Homo sapiens: one gene and its partner. The protein of the gene in region 1 purifies or fractionates together with the protein of each later gene. This does not show direct contact. Each region holds a gene or a part of one and is shown on either strand. Other genes may lie near its edges. The genes, in order: KTI12 and MINDY3.

The links.
Region 2: the proteins of KTI12 (region 1) and MINDY3 purify together in Homo sapiens (affinity purification with western blotting, with the first as the bait; one study listed by BioGRID). This does not show direct contact.

Annotation. Positions count from the first base shown.
Region 1 is NC_000001.11:52,031,590-52,035,405, forward strand, and holds KTI12 (protein KTI12 homolog), read right to left. Parts: upstream 2,222-3,816; 5' UTR 2,173-2,221; coding exon 1,108-2,172; 3' UTR 514-1,107; downstream 1-513.
Region 2 is NC_000010.11:15,836,293-15,840,115, forward strand, and holds part of MINDY3 (ubiquitin carboxyl-terminal hydrolase MINDY-3), read right to left. Parts: intron 1,988-3,823; coding exon 1,936-1,987; intron 1,342-1,935; exon of another isoform or gene 1,270-1,341; coding exon of another isoform or gene 1,250-1,269; intron 1,027-1,249; coding exon 912-1,026; intron 1-911. UniProt on the Homo sapiens protein: Hydrolase that can remove 'Lys-48'-linked conjugated ubiquitin from proteins.

The DNA of each region.
Region 1 (3,816 bases):
TCAAGCGATTCTCGTGCCTCAGCCTCCAGAGTAGCTGGGATTACAGGCACACCATCACGCCCAACTAATTTTTGTACTGTTAATAGAGACGAGGTTTTGCCACGTTGGCCAGGCTGGTCTCGAACTCCTGACCTCGATTTTGGACTCCCAAAGTGCTGGGATTACAAGTATGAGCCACCACACCCGGCTTCTCACCACATATCTCAAGAGCAAAAACACTGTATCTAATTGGTCTTTGAAAATCACAGCCACTGTTAAAGTAGGTACCTACCATTTGTTCAATGAAATCAATGAAGAATGAAAGACAAGCTTACAATGATATTTGCCTTGAAATGCAGAATGAAGCAAAACAGTTACGGAAATTGTCATAATATAATTACTGTAGAGTAGCTCAAAACATCTACTCTCTCAGAACTATCAAAATACTACTTCACTTAAAGGCAGAACAATGACAAGTATACCTAAAATGTTACATGAAGTTACACAGGGAACATTAAGTGAAAGAGATTCCAGTAGACTATTTTAAAAGATTTTATTAGAGGAAATAATCTAGTAGATAACTTTCTTACTTCCACAAAAACAAAGTTTCTCAAGGATACAAACCAATGGATTTATCTGTGAACTCGGTCCCAGAATAGAAACTAGCAAAAAGTCAGTACAGTACTCAAAAAATACTTTTGTGGTATGAAAAAAGGGCAGGTGCAGATGTAGAACTGTACCATCTTCAGTTTCTGTTCACAATTGTTTTAAAACAATTCTCATCTATCCAGTCTGCTCTCCCACGCCTCAGATGAGGGAAGCCAATGGTCAATGCTCTGTGATAGCCCAAGTAGGATCCAATCTAGGTAATCCCTGTCCACCTTAGCTCTGTCCTCTGAGGGATTTGCCAGGTTGCACCACAATAGTTCTCCATTCTCTTTAGTCTGAACTTATGCTGTAAACCCAAGGCCTGGCACAGGGGTATGCAGGAAAGTTTGAGTGAATCAGTCACAACAGCTCTAGTACAGTACTGCATCGATATGCTCTGGAGACCTGCAGCCTATTTTTCCCAGAGAAATAAAGTGGAGTGGAGATCAGAAGCCATGGCTTCCCCCCTACCTCCTCTGGTCAGTGCAGGCTCTGGCTCAAATACTGAAGAAACATGTTGGCCAGTTGCGGCAAGTTCTCATTGTTGGGATGCATTTTAGTGTACGAAATAAACTGGCGACGAAGGCGACTCAGTTCTGCCATGGTCAAGGGCCGGGTAAACCGCAAGTGCTCTGTGGTACCAGGAAGCGTGAGCAAGTCCCCGGGGACAGCGCTCTTCTGCGCTTCCATCAATCCGGCCAGTACTTGACTCGTGACCTGGTCCAACTGGTGCAGAAAGCTGCCGGAGGCGAGGGGCTGGGACTGCGTAGACTGATGGGGTGGTGGGGCCCGGTTCTCAAACAGGGCAGAGCGGATCCCCGCCAGGGGCAACGGCTCCTCTAGGCCCACCAAAGTGAATAAAGGCCGGTCCCAGCGATTCCGAGAATCGGGAGCCTCAAAGCGCAGCGTTAGGGCCTCCAGGAGTTCGGGAGAGTAAAAGGCACCGGACCCATGCTTTGCAGATTTCTCTGAATCCGGAGTCACAAGAGCTGGAGACTCCGCAGCCCCGGATTCTTCTCGCTCCAGTTCCTTGGGTACGTCGGCCTGGGCACTTCCATTTACTACAGAGTCCGCAGTATGCAGTTCCCTGAGGACGCTGCTGCCCGCCGCCTGGGCTCTCCCGTCCTCCTCAGCGCGTGGCCGCCAACTCACACTGACGTTCCGGCCAGGGTTCTCGTTCGCGCCCGCCACCTGAGGTCCCGCGATCGGGCCGCCGGGCCGTACGCAGTAGACCAGGCAGAGCGGGGTGCGCGCCGCCCGTGCCAGGCAGTAGAGCTCGTAACGGAAACCTTTGATGTAGTTAAGCGAGTCCAGGATGACCACGTCGTGGCGACTCAGGCGCCGTTCCACGGAGGCTCGCAGAGCTCCACGCAATGCCTTCTCACGGGCAGAATCGCCGTACACCGCTGGGTCCTCTGCGCCCAGGACAGCTGCGTCGTCCACCACGTACACCGCGCGGCCCTCGGCAGCCAGCGCCACGCGCAACTCTTCAGCACGCCGGCTCTTGCCGCTGTACGGCAGCCCGCAAAACACCACGAGCGGCATCCTCTCAGGGAGCGACCATTGGCAACCGCGCTGCGCCAACTTCCGGGTTGTACGCGTCTCCGACGTAAGCCGGAAGTGCAAACTGCTCTTCCTGTCTCCCTTGACTTTTACAGACCCTCTTGTTTCTATGGAAACAGGAGTTCTACGCCAGCTAGGCCCAGGTTCAGCTTTCTCAGAAAGGAGATACAGAGACTATAATGGCATCAGTTATTTATGCCAAATGTTATAGGCCTCAGGAGAATGTGATCTTCCTGCAGCGAAAGACTGCCCGTCCATTTTATTAATAAGGCCTAAGGGGCATTAAATATTGTAAGCAATCAGCACTATATTTAGCATATAGAAGGCAATTAATAAATGCTGGTTCTCCTTCATTCCTCCTCTTAAACCTACTGGCTCTCAGTAAATGTTTATTCAATTACCATTTCAATCATTCAACATCTCCAAGGTTGGGAATTCAGAGATGAACATAAAACGCTTTCCCCACAAAAGATAAAAGGTCTGAATGGGAAGGATCAGGCGCCTACAATCAGAGTAATAAATACTATAATGGATAGATGCAGGTGAGGTTATAAAAGAACAGAAGGGAAAAACAAACTACCCAGAGAAATCACTGAAGACTTTATGTAGAAATAGTCATTTGACTTAGAACTTGAAAGACAAATAGGAATTTTTCTCCTTAGTAGGGTTGCCAGATAAAATACAGGATGCCCAGTTACATTTGAATTTCAGATAAACACCAAAAACATTTTTAAGCTTAAGTGTGTCCCAAATATTGCATAGACATATTTAAAATTATTTGGTGCTTATCTAAACTTCAAATTTAACTGGGCATCTTTAATTTATTATTATTATTTATTTTTTCTTTTTTAGAGATGAGGTTGTATGTTGCTAAGGCTGGTCTCAAACTCCTGGGCTCAAGTAATTGTGCCACCTCTGCCTCCCAAAGTACTGGGAATACAGGTGTGTGAGCCAAGGTGCCTGGCCTGCATCCTTTATTTTATTTTATTATTATTATTTTTTGAGATGGAGCCTCGCTCTGTCACCCAGCCTGGACCACAGTGGTATGATCTCAGCTCCCTGCAACCTCCACCTCCTGAGTTCAAGCGATTCTCCTGTCTCAGCCTCCCAAGTAGCTGGGACTATGGGTGTGCGCCACCATATCTGGCTAATTTTTGTATTTTTAGTAGAGACGGGGTTTCACTATGTTGGCCAGGCTGGTCTCAAACTCCTGACCCCAGGTGATCCACTGGCCTTGGCTTCCCAAAGTGCTGGGGTTAAAGGCATGAGCCACTGTGCCTGGCCATCCGTTATTTTTATTTGCTCAATCTGGCAACTCTATTATTGTAGGTTTGAGACCCAGAGCCATGAAACTGTTGGATCTCTTGTATAAACAGCAAGCACTATAGGATGGTAGGTGCAGAAATGTGAGTGTGCCTGTGCATGTGTGTATATTGTAGATGCACATATACTGGGGTCTTTGTATCTCTCTTGTACAGTATAGTAAAAAACATTCAAGTCTTGGCTCCTCCACTTACTAGTGTTGTAACTACTGGCAAATTATGTAACTTTTCTGTACTTCAATTTCCCCTTCTATAAAATAACAACTGCTATTTCACAGGTTTACCAATCTGTAGGTTGTTGTGA
Region 2 (3,823 bases), on another chromosome or scaffold:
CCTATCTCTGTCAGATGGTCCCTACTAGAAACAGTATGCCCTTGATTCCATCTAATAGGTTCAGACAGAAGACCAAACGCCAAAACACACTGCCATAATGGAATTATTAATGTGCCATTTTTTTACAATGCTAAATAGATACCATTAAAAATGCATCCCATATTATTAATACAGACATAGTCCCTAGCATAGAGTCAATCAACGCTCAAAAAACATTTGTCAAATAAAAGAAGTTTGATTTCAGACATGATAGATCTAATAGCATAGTCAACTGAGACTAACACGTTACTAGAGCTATGAGACTGGTATTTGGGGAAAAAGAGTAGGACTAGAAGGGGACATATTGGAACTATTAAATAGCTATATAAAGGTAACCTGAGCAAATGAAATATCCATAAAAGGCATACTGGATCCAGGGAAGAAAATTTCTGGACTATAAAAATTTAGAGGAGGAGAGAAAAGAGCAGGAGGTAACAGATAAAGAAGGAAACAAAGCTATCAAAGAAAACAAAACAAAATAAGAATCGTGAGACATTATAGAAAGAAAACTCACACAGTGATTTTTCAAAAAAAAAATCAAGAAATGGAATCAAGGTCAAAAACAGCTTCCAGAAGGGGTTAAGGGGTCAAGTGCTACACGGAAGGATCAAAGGAAACACAATTTGGAAGAAAGGACAGCATTTCACAACCAGAACATTATTGATAATCTCTGTAGTCCAAAAGAGCAGAGGTGAAACTGCTTAAGCAACGAGTGAGTGCTGAGGAAACAGAAATTAACTCATTTTCAACGTAAAAGATTTTTATTCTAAGAATTTAAAAACACCATCAGGAATAAAATTACTCATCACTGCAGGAAAAACAGCACTGAACAACATTAATCAAAGGCAGAAAAATCATCTTCTTGAACACACCTTTGTCAGTAATACAGAATACAGAAAAAGCAATACTCCAAATTTATTTCCCCACATTGAATACTGGTCCAAGACAGCATCTTTTAATTCTGGTAAACTTCTGAACGATCTTTTTCTGGGGGAAAAAAAGAATTAAGTATTGGTATCATGATGAGATTAACTACATTCATAAAAGGGAAAATTTTTAAATTTTCTTATACATTAAAACATATACATACAAACAGGAAAGTTTTGGGACGTTTCTAAATTTTTCATTACAAATTTAGCCACTAAAACCAAAAGCTATTTCTGACAACTATCACTATATATGATATTTATCATTAAGAAAGAACACCTACTTGGCAGGGAACCTCTTCATCTCTTAGGTGAACTGTCTGGCATCAGTAAATTCTTCAATAATATACAGTTATTTAAAGAATAGAGTGGCCTTCTTGTAAGAGGGGGTAAACACAAAGAAAACTTCACTTTTTAAATCCTAGAAATTACTTAACAAATATCTTAATGCCAAAGATAACTTACACATTTGCGGCTTCTTTTAAAAGAAATTAATGTTACATTTTAAACCAAATGCCACCCATAATTCTATCAACAGCCATCTTTACCTTTTACTTTGTAATAAAAAGTTTAAATGCTCTAACAAAAATATCGGTATTCTTAATAAAAGGTATAGAAAACAGATACTGGCAAATAAATAATTCTAATATTTATCCTACTAGAAATCTTCATATTTGTTTAGGTCACAGAAACATTAAGCTAAAATGATTTTTTTTCATTGTAATGATGAAAAAGCTTTTTAATGTTTTTGAAAAGCGTATCTGGGTAGTTAATTAAGGACTCAGCATAGTTTATACATTTACAAACTATTTTAATTTAAAGGCAAATTAATCCTGAAGCAATGGATTTAAAATTTATGTTTAAGTAGCGCATTTCTATGTAAAACTAAGAACCTTTCCACAGTATGAACAGACTTAAAGTGGCAATGTGTCCACAGAGTAAGTATTTTAAATGTTCCAATGTTACTTACTGAATTAATGCATGAAATCGCTCAAAGCCAAGCTCTTCGACAGCCAAGGCAGCTATACATAAAAGACACTTTTCAGCACTACACATGGCAAATAAATGACACAAGATACACACAGCAGGCTGTAAATACTTTCAAGCAATCAAAACTTTCCCTATTTCCTTACTCCCTTAAAATTCTCAGTTTATTTTCAACTTCATTATAACATGAATTTATATTTCAACATCTTTATTATGAATATAACTAAAATCGATATAATACTGAGAATATAGAAGGGTGATTAAATAACATTTCAGTTCAGCTATGCTACGGCAGTTATAAAGTATGAAAAATTACTGATAATCAGTGCCTCACATATCATAATGTGTCCTGCACTTTTAAATAATCTTTCAGATTATATAAATCCAAGTAATATCATCAGAGCTAACCTTCCTTTTTATAATATAAAATCTTTAGGTTTAAGGCTTAATTATTAAACAAACATGTATAAAAAGGCATAACACTTTCAAACTACACAGGTTCAATGACAGCTTTAAGTTTGTTTCCTCATTTATTTGTATAACTGTTAAAAAGTTTTCAGTAACTTATTTAGATTATGTTTATTAATCAAAGGAAATAGAAGAAAGCATTTTAATCAGAGGTAATGTTTATTGAGCACTTTACTAAGTGCCAGGCCCTTTTCTAAATGCCCTACATGTCTTACCTCATTTAATCCTCATATAAACCCTCTTAGCTCCATTTTACAGAAGAGGAACCTGAGGCACACAGAAAAATCCTCTCAAGAGTACATAGGATTAAACAGCAGAGATGAGACTTGAGCACAGATAGTCTTGGCTCCAGGGAGTTATTTATCACAATGAATAACTTCACATATATTTCATAAAGCAAATCTTACTACTATCAAATATAAATTCTCACTGGTGAGTTAAGAAAATTGATTCATTATGAAGTCAAAATTTTAGATTTTTATTTACAATTTAAAATGTCACATTATGCTAGCTTTCCAAAGCCTAGTTGTGAGTGTTTCATATTTCGTTTTAAAATCTTTAGCAGTCCAAATGTATTAAGTTATTTCTTGGTTTATGTGGGAAACAAACTGAAATTGAACCTGAGTATTCACTACTGCGAACAACTGTGCATTACCAACAAGCCAAAACTATACACACCACATAAGCCAATGAAATTAATGTTTGTAGAGAAAGTAATATTAACAAGAGGGGAAAACACTTTACATTAAAACTTTCAGAAAATGAAAATTCTACCTAATCTTTTCCAAATTATACTGCTTGTTCTGCAACATTAGATTATCTAAATAGTTTTACTGGGTATACTACAAGAGTAGACATAAAGATAATAATTTAGAGAAAAGAGGCAAGCAAAATAAAAAGCTTAGCAGGCAGGGATGGTGAAAAAATATAAAACACAAGAAAAAGAACAAAGCTGGGAATAAAGGAAAGAACAGGTAAAATAGATTGTTACACGGAATAAAAATTGTAATATAAATACAGTTCATTTGTCACTAAGGTAAATTCTCAAATTTTCAGTTAACAAAGTATTTCAAATGTATACATTATTTAAAAAATTTAAAATATGGTTTACTTCATGGCAACTTTTAAAATGAGATACAAAGTAAACTGGAAAAATTACTAAAATGTTTTCTGGAGGGTAATTCAATATAATATGCCCATCTAAATTAGTTACTGAAGTACCAAAGGGAATGCATTATAAGGCCCTTTAACCTATAGCAACGTGACGTATCACCACAGAACTGCATAGCATATTTCATAGTATGCACTCAGTATACTGTTAAGATACTAATGGAAAATGTTATATAAAAAGATCTTACTATTTTCTCACATCAATATACAGACTGGCTTTAAGCACAAAATCT